Linked DNA regions of Homo sapiens. The protein of the gene in region 2 purifies or fractionates together with the protein of the main gene of each other region. This does not show direct contact. Each region holds a gene or a part of one and is shown on either strand. Other genes may lie near its edges.

What was found.
Region 1: the proteins of ZNF563 (region 2) and LRP4 purify together in Homo sapiens (affinity purification with mass spectrometry; 2 studies listed by BioGRID and IntAct, with this or other methods). This does not show direct contact.

What each region holds. Positions count from the first base shown.
Region 1 is NC_000011.10:46,908,415-46,915,896, forward strand, and holds part of LRP4 (low-density lipoprotein receptor-related protein 4 precursor), read right to left. Parts: intron 1-7,482. UniProt on the Homo sapiens protein: Mediates SOST-dependent inhibition of bone formation. Functions as a specific facilitator of SOST-mediated inhibition of Wnt signaling.
Region 2 is NC_000019.10:12,330,427-12,338,555, forward strand, and holds the start of ZNF563 (zinc finger protein 563), read right to left. Parts: upstream 3,208-8,129; 5' UTR 3,057-3,207; coding exon 3,054-3,056; intron 1-3,053. UniProt on the Homo sapiens protein: May be involved in transcriptional regulation.

The DNA of each region.
Region 1 (7,482 bases), on a different chromosome or scaffold from region 2:
ACCTAATATTATCACCACTTTACAGCTGGGGACAATGAACCACAGAAAGGTTAAGTCTGTAGATAGATTGCACAAGTACTAAGGGTTGAGGCCAGCATTCACACCCAGGCAGGTGATTATACTGCTTCCCAATAAATGGTATTACTGTTGTGAGAATCTCCAAAACCCCAAGGTCAAAAGGGGGAATTTACAACTTCTGGGTCCCTCTCTTTTATGTGTTCTCCAATAGCAAATATGCAGTGAGTTTATGGGTCTCAAACAGTGACCTCTTTCTGGTTACTGCTAAGGTAAAGAAAGATTCATTTCCCTCGCCGGAAGGTAAAGTAATGAAGTGGGGAAAGTCTGGCGTCCCAGCACTTTTGAATCAGCACTCGAGTGTTGTTGGTCCAGGGAACAGGGCTTCCCATAACAAATAATTATACTTTGCAATTTCTCTTTAGTTTGTGAGCTACTTTTGCATATGCACTTGCATTCTCATTGAATCATTACAATAATCCTGAGCAATGACTGCAGGGCCCATCCAACAGGTAAGGGCACCCGCTTTGGCCAAGGTCACAAGGTAAGTAGGAGAGCCAGGATGGCAGCCCCATTCTGACACTTAAACTAGTATTCTTCTCTTAGTGTGATCTCAGAGTCTGGACTTTCAGTAAGCTTTCCGGGTGACACCGATGCACACTCAAGTGTCTAGCGGCACTGCTCTCCACCATTCCATAGAATGCACAGCTGAAGGTGGACCACATCTGTCACATGGAGGCACATGGGTAGACCGTGACTACTCACAGCTACAGACCAGCTTTTTCAAGCTGAACCAGAGATGAGAAGGCTTAAGGAGTACCCTGTGAGTGTTCTGGAGTCTGGTGGCTACCCCAGTGTGGAAGCTATTAGGATTACAATGAGAAAAGGAGGAATCGGCCGGGCGCGGTGGCTCACGCCTGTAATCCCAGCACTTTGGGAGGCCGAGGCGGGTGGATCATGAGGTCAGGAGATCGAGACCATCCTGGCTAACAAGGTGAAACCCCGTCTCTACTAAAAATACAAAAAGTAGCCGGGCGCGGTAGCGGGCGCCTGTAGTCCCAGCTACTCGGGAGGCTGAGGCAGGAGAATGGCGTGAACCCGGGAAGCGGAGCTTGCAGTGAGCCGAGATTGCGCCACTGCAGTCCGCAGTCCGGCCTGGGCGACAGAGCGAGACTCCGTCTCAAAAAAAAAAAAAAAAAAAAAAAAAAAAAGGAGGAATCACCATTCGTTTATAATATGCTAAAGCATATTAGCATATGCCTCTCTCCTTTTATCCACTGGCAGCAATAAATACAAGTTCGTTGAATGAATGAATGAATGAATGAAACACTCCTCTAGAATCTTGTGAAAGCTGGAGTCAAAGGAAAAGAGACTCAGAATATCATAAATAAAAGTAGTTATTTCCTACCTAACCAGTGCTGGAGAGAACAGGAATCTTCTCGTTTGCAAGGCAGCCTCTTTGTCCTACCCAGGTTTTGTTTACTCCTTTCTCCTACAAGAGTTCCTTTCACCAGCTGTATTATCCGGCTGTGAAACTGACACGCCATGTTTCTACTTATTTCTGTCCCATGGTCCCTTTTATTCCCGATTCCTAGAGGCCAGCTTAACTTGGTTGGTTTGGAAAATCTACCAGGTGAAGTCTTCTCCTCAGTGGCCCGTTTCGAAAGGGACATGTCGGGCACATGATTGCGGGTCCAAGCAAGTTCAGCCCTCTCTTGCTACTGTTACATACAGAAAAGAAGTCCTTAATGGTTAGCCTCCAAAGTTATGAGGCAGAAGAACATAATGTTAAGCACGGAGGAACAAAACTCCCCAGGATAAAAATCCTGACTCTGCTAAGTTCCTAGCTGTCTGACCCTGGGCAGCTATTTAACCTCTTTATATATAATTTTCTCATCAGGAAAATTGGGATAATAAAATCCCCTAACTTACAGGAATGTTATGAGAAATAAATTAGTTAATTCATAAGAAGGACTTAGCATTACTGCCTGGCACATACTAAGTGCTCAATAAATAATAGCTCTTGTTATTACTATTAAAGATTTGGCTTACCCCAGAACTGTCACATCCAACCACTCCATGATTAAGACCTGCTATTTTAGGACTTGAGATGTTTGAAAACCCTACTGTGTACCAGGCAGCAGTACCACCACCATGGGTTAAGTTGGTGGCATGAATAACTGCAGAGTCTTGCTTTATTGCCTTTCTCTGAAAGAGCTTGAGGCACATGGTATCCTTTATCCTTGCCCCCTTTTTTTTTTTGAGGTGGAGTCTTGTTCTGTCACCCACACTGCAGTGCACTGGCACAATCTCAGCTTACTGCAACTTCCATCTCCCGGGTTCAAGCGATTCTCCTGCCTCAGCCTCCCAGGTAGCTGAGACTACAGGTGTGTACCGCCACACCCGGCTAATTTTTGTATTTTTAGAGTAGAGACAGGGTTTCTCCACATTGACCAGGCTGGTCTCAAACTCCTGGCCTCAAGTGATCCACCTGTCTCGGCCTCCCAAAGCACTGGGATTACAGGCACGAGCCACCACACCCAGCAAATCTTTGCCTAATTTATCACCAACTAATTCTGAGGAGCCAAGGACAGGAGAGAGAATCCAGAAACTAAAGTACAGAGCAATTAAGAAATGGATTAGCTTCCACTTTTGTAAATCAGGAGTAATAACAGTATCTATTTCATAGGGTTGCTGGGAGGTCTAAATGAAATAATACGTATGAGGTTCATACTAGACAGCTGTTATTGTTTTTCTTGTTATTTGTACTAATCCCATTATCTTCATCTGGATATGTCCTCTCTCTCAACCTAGTAATGTAGCCAATGCCAGGCTATCTTTGTATAGATCCTCAAAATTCTACCTGCCCTACCTGGAAGCTGTCAACAGATTTCACAAATCCAACAGGGCTCAAACATGGCTGTGCTCTGTGAAGGGCTGCTCAAAATATTGCTTTCCCTTCCCCCTACATCTCAAATCAGAAGGTCCACACAGTAACAAACCACATTTGTTTATGGCTGTTCAGGGAGCAACAAACCACATTTTTCTGGAAACCTTTTAAAGTCTCTCTCTTCTCCTGAGCCCATGAGTTCGAGGCTACAGTGAGCTATGATCATGCCACTGCACTCCAGCCTTGGCAATAGAGTGAGAACCTGTCTCAAAAAAAAAAAATAAATAAATAAATAAAAATAAAGTCTCTCTCCCTCAAGAAGCACCTGAGAAGTAATTCCTTATGCATTCAGACTCCCTGAGAAGATGTCTGAAAACAGAGGAGAGGTCAATCCAAGATGAAATATAGACCTTCCCAACCTAGATCTTCTGGGATAGCCTGGAATCCTGGCTCAGTTACTCACTATTTGTATGACAGGAAACTGCTCTGAGCCTGTTTCCCATCTGTAAGATGGGAATCTTCTTTTTTTTTTTTTTTTTTTGAGACGGAGTCTCGCTCTGTCGCTCAGCCTGGAGTGCAGTGGCACAGTCTTGGCTCGCTGCAACCTCTGCCTCCCAGGTTCAAGCGATTCTCCCACCTCAGCCTCAGCCTCAGCCTCCTGAGTAGCTGAGACTATAGGCATGTGCCACCACGTCAGCTAATTTTTGTATTTTTAGTAGACATGGGGTTTCACCATGTTGGCCAGGTTGGTCTCGAACTCCTGACGTCAAGTGATCCACCCACCCCAGCCTCCCAAAGTGCTGGGATTACAGGCGTTAGCCATCGCACCTGGCCAATGTAAGACGGGAATCTAATGTTACCTACCTCATAAGGATATTGTGAGGAATAAATATGATATCATATACTAAATGCTTATCACAGTACCAGGGACACAGCAAAGCTCTCAAAAATGCTAACTGCTCCAGAAATACATTTGGATTTTTTAAACCACATATCCCAATTTGTAAATCCACATATCCCACAATTTGCAAAAATTGTCATTGGAGGAGATCATTCCTAGAAGAGCAGAAATTCTCATTTGGGGAAGATACATTGTAGAGTTGTTGGCTTTTATTGGCTCTGGGAGCCTGTAGTTGAAACTTATTGTTTAAACTGCCCGTGGAAGGAGGGTGGAAAACCTGGGGCTCCCCTTTCCTATTTGCTAGGCTTGTGGATGCCATAACCTGGCCTCTCCACTTGGTTAGAAGGAGGCTACAGTCAACTCAACAGAGAAGCTGTCTCTTGTCCTCATCCATGCCAGCGCGTGGTTGCAGGCCACTACCCCTCCCCACCTCCCCCAAGGCGTGACAGGAAGTGGAGCTGCCGAGCTTGGAGAGATCCCTGGAGGCACTTACAACCTTGCAGCTTCTTTATTTCACATGCTAATCAGGTGTCTCTCTGGATACCCTTCTCTGTACCTGCTCTGCCCTACACCCAGACAGAGGGAGGGTCCCTCTCCCGCAAAAAGGCACTGCCTGGAGCCAGGAGCTTCCCGGCTCCAGAAAACCTCCGGTGATAAATTATGCAGCAGCACCTCTGTGTCACTGCCTCTCAGCTAGATGGGAGGTTTGCTCCCAGTCTTTTGTTTCCGGCTCTGCTTGCCGCTCTGATCCTCAGCTGTGCATAGAGGTGAGGGGGAGCTCCCATAGGCCAAGTCAGGGCTTGCAGCAAGTCCCAGCCAGGCTATCCCCAGTTGGGTCCCAGACAGCGCCCCTCCCCTCATTCGAACCTGAATGATGGGGGAGTCCTATTCCGCATGGGGAAACAGGGTGTCAGGGAGCGCTAACAGCCAGTCCGCTCATCTGTGAGCAAGAATGGGAATGCCTACGAGCAGTGAAAGAATGAAGTCTGCTTGGATGGGCGTAAGAGGCGCCCAAGGGCACCTAGGATGTTTGCTTCTTGCTAAATCAAAAACGCACAACAGAAAATGGAGGCAGACAACCGTCAGGAAGCTAGAGAATTGGCTCTTTTTAACAGCTGCTCTTGGTTACGGTCAACTTTCCGCAGCTCCCAAAAATCACATCACTGGCACCAACTTAAAAAGAAGAAACAAAAGAGACAACAGGGGTCAAACTTTGAGGTGGAGGAACTAGGGGTTGGGGGCTATTCGGGGCTGGAGACCCACATCAATTAGGCCTGCAAGCTGACAGGCTTCCTGATTGAAAATGGTAGCTGCGAAGGCTCCACAACAGCCCAGCTCCCAAATTGGGGCAATTACTACCTTATGAGCTCTGGAGCCTGACTCCTTTCTCAGGCCAATGGGAGGGAGGGCTTGGAATTCTAAACTGTTCCAGCTACAAGAGTCCCTGGCCAGCCCCTCTCACCCCATGTCACAGGAATCTTAGCAGGAGAAGTTGCTAGGCTGCATCCCTGACCACTTAAGAAGGGAAACTCTCAGAGGAAAAGCTCCATTTCCCCAGACCTCTCTCAAGAGAACTAAGGCGACATGAGTTCCCCTAGACTGATGTTATAGCTTAGCAGACTTCTTTTCTAGGAGTGGGCACAAGTGGGAACTATGCTTCGGTTCTATCACGTTTTCAAGGGGAGAAAGAAGGGGCAGATCTTTAAAAGAGACAAGCAAAAGACCAGCTGCAATGAATGAAGGACCAAGTCTCAATTTTAGCACAGAACACGGTAGCATAATTATTTACCTGGCTCCCATGTTCTAAAGCCAAGAATCATCTCGGATCCACTTAGGTGACTTTGCTTACAGCTAACTTTTATCAAGCTCTACAGTAACACAGTAGTTGCCAAGCTCTGTGCTGCATAGTTTGAACATGCTATTATCTCAGGTAAATTTTATGATATTCCTATGTGATAATCTATTACTACTTCCCTTCCCCTACCCTACCCGCCTTTGCAGGTAACAACCCTGAGGTTCAGGGAGATTTTGCACAGGGTCACCAAGAATTGCCAGAGCCAAGATTCAAACCCAGGTCTGTGGGTGCTTCTTAATTGCTGAGCTTCGTATACAGTGATTATATTAATGCTTGACATATGTGTGTTTGCTGAATGAATGAACAAGTGAATGGGTGTGGAGCCTAGTTTGAGGAATGCTCCCGATTGTACGAGGAACTCATTCCTGCCAGCTCTAAGCTGGAGTGAGAGTGACAAGCCCATGCAGTCATCAGAACTATTTATAAGGTCAAACTCAGGCTCTGCCAGCTAACCAGTCAGCACTGAGTCTTCCCTGGGACACTGAATCCTCACAGGCTGAGGAGGGGAGGAGGGCTTCCGCTGCTGAAGATGAGATGGCAGTCCAGACACAGTCTGGGGCCCAGATGCCCCATGTCCAGGCAACTGTGACAAAACTCGTGGCTAAGCTGCATCAAGGAATGTAGAGAGACCATGGCTGGAACAGGCTAACAGACCTAGTCAACCAAGGGCACAGACTGTCTCGTAATCTTACCCAATCATAAAAAAGACAAGATTACTTCTTAAAGTAGTCCCTGAAATTCTGTTCCTATTCAGGAACCCCCAGTATTTTTTTTTTCTTTAAAGGGGCAGCAACATAAACAATTTCTCCTATTTTCCTTCTAACAGTTAAGACTGGCAGTTAATCGGTAGAAAGAGTGAGCAAAGAGCTATAAAACACCGTGTCCTCTGTGACCTCCTGTGTTCTTTGCTGGCCCAGAAGATGGACATACCCAACGTGCTCTGTATCAGACATGGCCAGACTTGGTTCCCTTGCACCTGTCATTCTTAATACCACGTGCCAGTCCAAAAGATGTTATCTGATATTCATCAGGGTACAGAAGAGGAAATCCAAAATCAGTGACAAGCCAAGTATGTTTCACAAGCCCAACAGATCAGGGACAAGGTCACTCAAGCACCATGACAACCCTGGTCACGACAACAGCGAGATGGAAAGGAGACCAGTCTCAGCTCAATTGCTCTGCACTTATTTTCAGATACAACCTTCTATCTACCCAAGCACGCCTAGGCAGAAGTTTTAACATTTCCCTTACCTGGATGAGACCTCTAGAACAAACACACTTTCCACTCTTCCAATGGTTGTCATCCATGCCCTTACTTCAAACTTCAGGATGAAAATCACTCAGGGCTATTACCAGCCATCAAGTTTCCTTCCAAAATCTTTAAGGTTGGAGAGTTATGTGGGCTGAGTCCAAACCAATAGGCTCTAGGAAAAGCCCCAAGGACTAGCAGCATCCAAATAAGCACCTTAAACTTTATTTATTTATTAAGATAGAGTCTCACTCTGTCGCCCCGGCTAGAGTGCAGGGGAGTGATCTTGGCTCATTGCAACTTCTGCCTCCCAGGTTCAAGCAATTCTCCTGCCTCATCCATTCGAGTAGCTGGGACTACAGGCATGTGCCACTGTGCCTGGCTAATTTTTGTATTTTTAGTAGAGATGGGGTTTTGCCATGTTGGCCAGGCTGGTCTTGAACTCCTGACCTGAAGTGATCCGCTAGTCTCAGCCTCCCAAAATCACCTTAAACTTTAGTGTCTTTAATTCATGCCTTGCTGAGGTCAGGTCTGCCTAATGGATCTACTACTACATTTATCACAACTGCTGT
Region 2 (8,129 bases):
GCACGTAGTTTATGGCAATCTGGTATAGCAATCCTACGTAATTAAGACAGGGAAGCGCTTTCTCTACCACACATCAAGGCTTTGAAGTCTACAGTAATCAGGAGAGTATGGTGTTAGCAAAGTGATGGGTACAAAGTCCAATGGAAGACAGCAAATTCTGGAACAAGAGCATCTATTTAAGGTATGAGAAACTATGGCACAGCAGGTATTGCCAGGCAGCGATACAAATGACAGCTACTTCAACCCAAAGAACAGGGACAAATTGTTATCTCCAGAAGAATAACCAATCTTCTGCCTAACACCTCCATATACAATAATCAACTAATTACAGACCTGCCTGTTTTCATGAATTTTTATTCACTCTATTACCTCAGCTTCCATTTTGAATGTGGTTCTCTACCTTTCTCATACCAGAAAAAGTATTTTAAGAGCCTTGAGACAGTATTCATTTTTCTGTAGTCATCATGGAAGAAAGTTTTTTCCAATTTATTTTCCCTGATGGCATTTTCTCTGCTAAGCCCTGAAATTCTATTGAGATGATCCAATTAAAAACAAAACAACAGCAACAACAAAAAAACAGACCTGGAAAACTTACTACACAGGCTCTGTGTAGTACGACAGAAAAGAAAAGTAAACAAGAATTTTTTAAAGGCATATAGGACTAGATATATGTAATTTGTTTTCTGAAATCCAACTCTTTCTTGTCCCTTTAGAAACATCTTCTCTATCAATCTCTAATGATAGAATGCATTTTACAGCTAAGAAAAAACTGAACAGAAATGAGTGAACAAATCTTTTCAAGGTTGACAACCTCAGGGAGGGGCAGTGCTGACTGGAACACAGACAAGTCTCATTCAAGGGTCAGGTCAGGTCCTCCTGTCACCTGGGACATCCCCCACCCCCGTGCTGCTCACTGAAGTGCTCAGTGACTACTCCCTACCCCCAACCACCAGATACCGCACTGTGTACTTTCAGGCTCTTACACCACCTCACTGGGGTAAGTTATCTTTGACCTTTCGGATAGTTTTTCTTGCTTCACTAGTCTAACAGAATTCAAAGGATGGGAATCATTTCTATTTTACCCCCTCAATACCAGCACCTGAGTGGCTGACCAGCCATGTCTCCAAGAAATGAAAACTGGGCTTGGGGTGAGAAAACTGAGTATCCCAGGGCTTAACTTTTTACAAGAGGATACCAGGGGAATCCTCCCACCACAGGGTATCCAGCTCTTCCCCTGGGAGGCCCCAGCCCTGCATCTCAGGCTGTCCTCTGGGAGGAGTGGCCCAGGGGCTGATATTCACTACCCTCCAAGACAAGGCTGCTGTATCCACTTGGTGCCAGTCCCAGGCAGTTATCAAAGCCAGTACCAGGAAAAGATAGTGTGGGCTCAGGACTCATCAGCTGGTGGTTTCCAAAGGGGAACCTCAACCCAAACACTTCCAGATAAGGTGCCTGTGCCCAGAGAAGATAAAAGGAGAAGAGGCGCAGACATTTTTCTTGTTGGTTTTTACAGCAGAGTGGTTAAACCACCTGACAGGTGGTTATTCTCTGCATCCTCACATATGAAATATTCACAAACAAAAATCATATCTTCTAAAAAAGAATCATATATTGCTACCTGGGGAAAAAAATGACAGTTAAAATACTGTATTTGTTTGAAATACAGCCTGGGGGACAAAGAGTTCATTATGTTGCTGTGAACTGAGGACAGTGTAGAGTCTTAATTAGGGAAAAGGCTAAGGGGAACAGGGGAAAAGGCTGTTAAATTAAAGTCTTAATTAGGGAAAGGCTAAAGGGAACAGGGGAAAGCAGAAAGATAAAACAAAAAAGCTATAAATCTGCCTATCTTCATGTGCAGAGAATTTAAACAAAAGAGAATGCAGGTAAGTTACGGGTCTAACTTTGTTTTTTTTCTTTTTTCTTTTTTTTTTTTTTTTTGAGACGGAGTCTCTCTCTGTCGCCGGCCCAGACTGGAGTGCAGTGACGTGATCTCAGTTCACTGCAACCTCCGCCTCATGGGTTCAAGCGATTCTCCTGCCTCAGCCTCTCGAGTAGCTGAGATTACAGGCATGTGACACCACGTCTGGCTAATTTTTGTATTTTTAGTAGAGAAGGGGTTTCGCCATCTTGGCCAGGCTGGTCTGGAACTCCTGTACATGTCTAACTTTCTTTATGGCCCAAGACATGGCCTTCTTGCCCAGATAACGCACTTAATTCACAGACTTCCTGCTCACCATCAAACGCCTCAATTTATCAAACACCGGGGCTGACAGAGGAATGCAAGTTAAGCTCCCTGCTGCCTTGGCACTCTGCTGCCTTGGCACTATCAATCAGCCCAAGTTCCATTCTATAAAATCACCCACAAGCCTCTGCTTCTCTCCTGCAGGCTTCCCATGGCCTCCCTTGCGATGGATTTTGCTTCTTTCGCTAATAACTTTACCTACAACTGTCTTAGTAAAAATTATTTTACCCCGGCGTTACCGGCCCAGATAGCAGTCGTTCCCCTGTGACGGAGAGGAAGTCAGCTTTATGAAATGCAGGGCAAAATCTGGAAATCTAGGGATTTACTGCCAGCCCCAGGAGTTAGGGTGAGGGGACAAGATAAGCATTAGACATCTGCCTTCCCAAACCTTTGAAGACTCAGAGGGACACCGGTCCCCTTTAGGAAGAAAACAGAGACTGAGGATCCCACAGATCACAGCTCCTCACAGGCACGAACCCCACACACGAGTGGGGATTCCCTCCATGACCCTTCCGTGACCCTCCCCCAATCCTGGGGAGATGGGGGGCTGCGGGCGAGGAGCTGCCCAGACAGGGCTCCGAGGCCGGGACCGCAGTTGCCGCGCAGGGACCGGATAGGACGCCCGGGGTCCCGGCTGCCAGCTCAGCCTCACTCTGTGGCTGAGGGGACCGAGGGTCGAGCTGCGCCAGGGGGACTCGGGTCCCAGACCCCGGAGCTGACGGCGGGGGAGGCCCACGTTCGCCGCGGCCGGTTCTGGACGGTTCCAACCAGCTCTTTCCCACTTTTGGGACGCCTGACCCTGCACACGCACCATTTCCCGGCTTCCGGGATGTTCCAGGGTCCTCCCTCTGCCTCCCGCTGCCAGTGCGGGTCCCACTGTGACAGAGGCTGCCACAGACGTTCCAGGGCGTCTCTCAGCGACTGAGGCTACACAGACGTTCCAGGGCGTCTCTCAGCGAGCGACTGAGTCTAGAGCTGAGCGCAGGGGCGTGAAGACGCCGCGGGCTCTTTGAACCTGGCACCCTACTGCCAGCCGTGCGCCTGATTGACAGTTCTCACGACCCCGCCCCATAGCTCTGATTGGATAGGGCTCCAGGTCCCGCCCCCTGGGCACTGAGTGACAGAAGAAGCGATCACACAGTGCTGAGTCGAGCGGGATGAACGAGTTCCAGGCACAGCCCTTGACAGGGCAGGCTTCCTCCCTGTGCTGTCCTGATCCCTCCCAGGGAACATTTGCATTTATGCAGAATTACCTGCCCGTACTCAGCAGGCCCTTACTGCCTTTTCCTCCTGGAGAAGGAGTCACAAGTGTTTTGCAGGGAATCCCAGACTCACAGTCCAGTGGAGCCATTCCCCTGGCCTCAGAGCAGAGGGGAGCCCAAGGCCACACAGGCCACACTGCAGCAGGAGGGTGGCCTGATGTCCACCGGGCATCAGGATTTGAGGATGAGACTCTTGGCGGCAAGGTTAAGCCTTCCTCTCTCACCTTGCCTCTCAATCTGCTCATTTTCAGCCAAGGAAATAAAAACAAGTCAAGAACGGTATTAAAATATCAAATGTGTGGAAGAACTGAAATCACACGGCAGCAATAAATGAATGAATGAATCAAAACAAAAATACAACAGGAAAAAAAAAGCAAAAACTTGAACTAGTGCAGATAAGCAGCCTGCTGCCCTCATACTTCAGCAAACGTCCCATTCAGGAGGCTAAACATATGCCCAAACTTGGCAGCCACTCTTAACTGTTGAAATGGAACCCCAGAGTGAACCAAAACCTGGTGATGAGACTGGGACACTGAAGGATTTGACTCTGGGAGCTCAACATACTTCCCTGTGCCCTCTGCAGAGTGTGGAAATGCCCCCACCGTCAAGATGTGCATTTTCACCAACAGGAAAGTTTCATGTAAAGTTAGTTTAAGGGCCCGGGGCGGTGGCTCACGCCTGCAATCCCAGCACTTTGGGAGGCCGAGGCGGGTGAATCACCTGAGGTCACCAGTTGGAGACCAGCCTGGCCAACATGGTGAAACCACATCTCTACTAAAAATACAAAAATTAGCTGGGCATGGTGGCGGGCACCTGTAATCCCAGCTACTCGGGAGGCTGAGGCAGGAGAATCACTTGAACCTGGGAGGCGGAGGTTGCAGTGAGCCGAGATCGTGCCACGGCATTCCAGCCTGGGTGACAGAGTGAGACCTGGTCTCAAAAAAAAAAAAAAAAAAAAAAAAAAGGTTACTTTAAGGTACTGACCTACATAAACTGTCAAATTCATAAACCCTTTACCCAGATTTTCCTAACACATAAATGGTAAATTCTGATTCTATGTGCAGCTTCGTGCTACGTGGAGGCGTGCGCAGGCTGCTGAGGAAGCACCAAAGGGGGCTCCATTTCTCTCCCTTTGCAGCCTTCAGAATGGGCTCGGTGTAGAGTCACTGGTTCAAACTCTGCTGCCCACTCCAGGTGGCTGGGGCTCAGAAAACAATACCCCAAAAAGAAGACCTTGGAAGAAGCCTCAGAAGCAAAAGTTTTTTCTCCACAGAGGGCAGAGGAAAAACTTAGTCCCATTCTTGGGACTCTTAGTCCTACTCTTCTATCCAAGGCTAGCCTTAGAAACTAGAATCTCTCTTCTCCAAAGTGGGTCGTAGAATCCAGAACCCTTTTCCCCTAAATCCAGGCATAAAATCAAAACATACTACTCTAACTTTCCATTGTCCTTTCTGTGTAAAAACTGGCCATAAGCAAATTAACTGTCCAACTTTGTTTGACTGCAGGTCAGGGTGGCCCTGGGGCTTCCCTGGGCCACATTGGAAGAAGATGAATCGTCTTGGGCCACATATAAAATACACTAACACTAACAATAGCTAATGAGCTTAAAAATATATAGCAAAAACAAAAATTCCTAATGTTTTAAGAAAGATCATGAATTTGTGTTGGGCTGCATCCAAAGCCTTCCTGGGCCATGGGTTGGACAAGCTTGCTGTAGGTCATAAGACCCTCCATTTCAGAGTGGGTCCTGCCTCATACTGAGAAGGAAGGAATGCATGCTCAGAAAGGCCAAGAACAATCTAGACACACAGGCCTTGTTGGGTTTCCCCACTCAGTCTGTTAGCATTGGATCATACTCTTTCAATCTAATCACATTTCTACACGGCTGTCCATACATTAAGCCTAAGCATTAAAATGAACAATTTCCTTTGTATCTCTGGGTCTTCATTCTGAAGCTTCCTGGATATACGCGTTAAATAAAATTTGTATGCTTTTCCTCCAATTAATCTGCCTTCTCTCCAATTAATTCAGCAAAACATCAGAGGGCAAAAGGGAATGTTCCCCATGGCCTCTGTAAGAGTCTTCACTTGCTTCTCACCAGCACTGATGAGTTAATTGAAACAAAGACCCTCAATTCCACTGTTTGAATAAAAAATTGACAATCTTGGGTTTCTTCCTGTGTCTATATATAAAGTAGTGGAAAAAATATATATAAGATATTTAATAGGGATTTGGAAACTGGTAAATGGACTGGGCATGGTGCCTTGGGCCTGTAATCCCAGCACTTTAGGAGGCAGGGGCAGGAGGATTGCTTGAGCCCAGGAATTGGAGACCAGTCTGGGCAACACGGGGAGATCTTGGTTCCTCAAAAACAAAACAAGGCCAGGCGCGGTGGCTCACACCTGCAATTCCAACACTTTGGGAGGCTGAGGCGGGCAGATCACAACGTCAGGAGTTCAAGACCAGCCTGACCAACATGGTGAAACCCCGTCTCTACTAAAAATACTAAAAATTAGCTGGGCATGGTGGTGCGTGCCTGTAATCCCAGCTACTCAGGAGGCTGAGGCAGGAGAATCGCGTGAACCCAGGAGGTGGAGGTTGTGGTGAGCTAAGATCGCACCATTGTACTCCAGCTTGGGCGACAGAGCGAGACTCCGTCTCAAAAACAAACAAGCAAACAAAACCAACTGGTAAATAATTATTCTGTTGAGAAACAAACATGCTAACAAACTATTATTTTTACCTTAGCAAACTGTTGTGTAAAACAACTAATTAAATGTGAGCTCTCCTCTCTCCTTGGCTTCAGTCACTCCCTGACCTTCATAGCTCAGGGTTGACATCATGTGCTCTGTGCCTGGGGATGGACATGTCCCATTTATCCATCTGAAACCCCCTCTCAACCCCAGCCCACACCATTGACCCAAACAGTCATATCTGTATCTAAATCCTAAGTATTGTACAAATACATTTTCCTTTTAAGCAAACTGGCCCAGGTTGAATTCACCTGTGGTTCTCATGCCCACAGTTTCATTTATTCATTTGAAACAGTCTTCTCAGATAGTAATGTCTTGGGTGAGGACACATCCATTTTATTTGCTTCTGTTCTTCTTAACCTGTGTCACTACCTGCTCAGTGAGGGCACAGACAGAATATTCTAAGTGACTATCAGCTGCTGTAAATACTGGAGGTCTCAGCACAACCCTGAGAAATCCGCACCAGAGAAAGGATGTGTGAATAATATTAATGTCACCCCTTACCACAACAGTTAGCTTATTTCTCTCTTTTTTTTTGAGACGAGCTCTCGCTCCATCACCTACACTGGAATGCAGTGGCACCATCATGGCTCACTGCAGCCTCAACCTCCTGGGCTCAAGCGATCCTCCTACCTCAGCCTCCCGAGAGGCTGGGACTGCAGGCATGTCCCACCATGCCTGGCTAATTTTTGTATTTTTTTGTAAAGATAGGGTTTCACCACGTTGGCCAGGCTGGTCTAAACTCTTAGACTCAGATGATCCACCCACCTTGGCCTCCCAAACTGCTGGGATTACAGGTGTGAGCCACGCTGTCTGGCCATTTTATTTTCCTTTCTGGAAAAAGGCTTTTAAAAATGGTTTTCCGGTTTTCTGGGGTACTTTCATACACAGCAATACAGATGATAAAAGTAAACATAACACCATTCAGTTTGGTTTCATTTATATGATTTAACTTTTCAACAGTTAAGAAACCAAAACATTCTGTCAACCTTAATTGGATTTCCCTGAATCTAAAAAGTGCCAGGAAAAAAATTCTACAAATAAAAACATGTAAGAGTCACTGAGGTGGTATGAAGAACCCTGAGAAGGTGACATTTAATGTGAGACATGAAATAATATATTAGTGTAAAAACTCAGGGCAAAGCCAGGTGCAGTGGTTCATACCTGTTAACTCCGCCCTTTGAGAGGCCAAGGCTAGAAGTTCAAGACCAGCCTGGGGAACAGAGTAAAACCACCATGTCTACCAATAAATAAATAAATAAATAAAAATTAGCCGAGCATGGTGGCATAGAACTGTAGTCCTAGCTATTCAGGAGACTGAGGCAGGAGGATCACTTGAGTCTAGGAGGTCAAGACTGGAGTGAGCTATGATCACACTGCTGCACTCCAGCTTTGGCAACAGAGTGAGACACTGTCTAAAAAAGAAAGAAAGGAAGAAAACAAACAAACAAAAAACCCTCAGGGCAGAGGATTCAGGGTAGATGGCAGGGTACCAAGCATAAAGAAGCTGTCTCCCCACCTAGACAACAGTTTTACTGGCAGAATCTGTCTGATGGAGCTATTTTATTTATTCTTATTTTTTGAGACAGAGTCTTGCTCTGACGCCCAGGCTGGAGTGCAGTGGCACAACCTCAGCTCACTGCAACCTCCACCTCCTGGGCTCAAGTGATTCTTGTGCCTCAGCCTCCTGAGTAGCTGGGATTACAGGTGTGTACCACCACACCCAGTTAATTTTTTGCATTTTTAGTAGAGATGGGGTTTCGCCATGTTGGCCAGGCTGGTCTTGGACTCCTGAACTCAAGAGATCCACCTGCCTCGGAAAGAGCTGGGATTGCAGGTATGAGGCACCACACCCGGCTTGATGGAGCTATT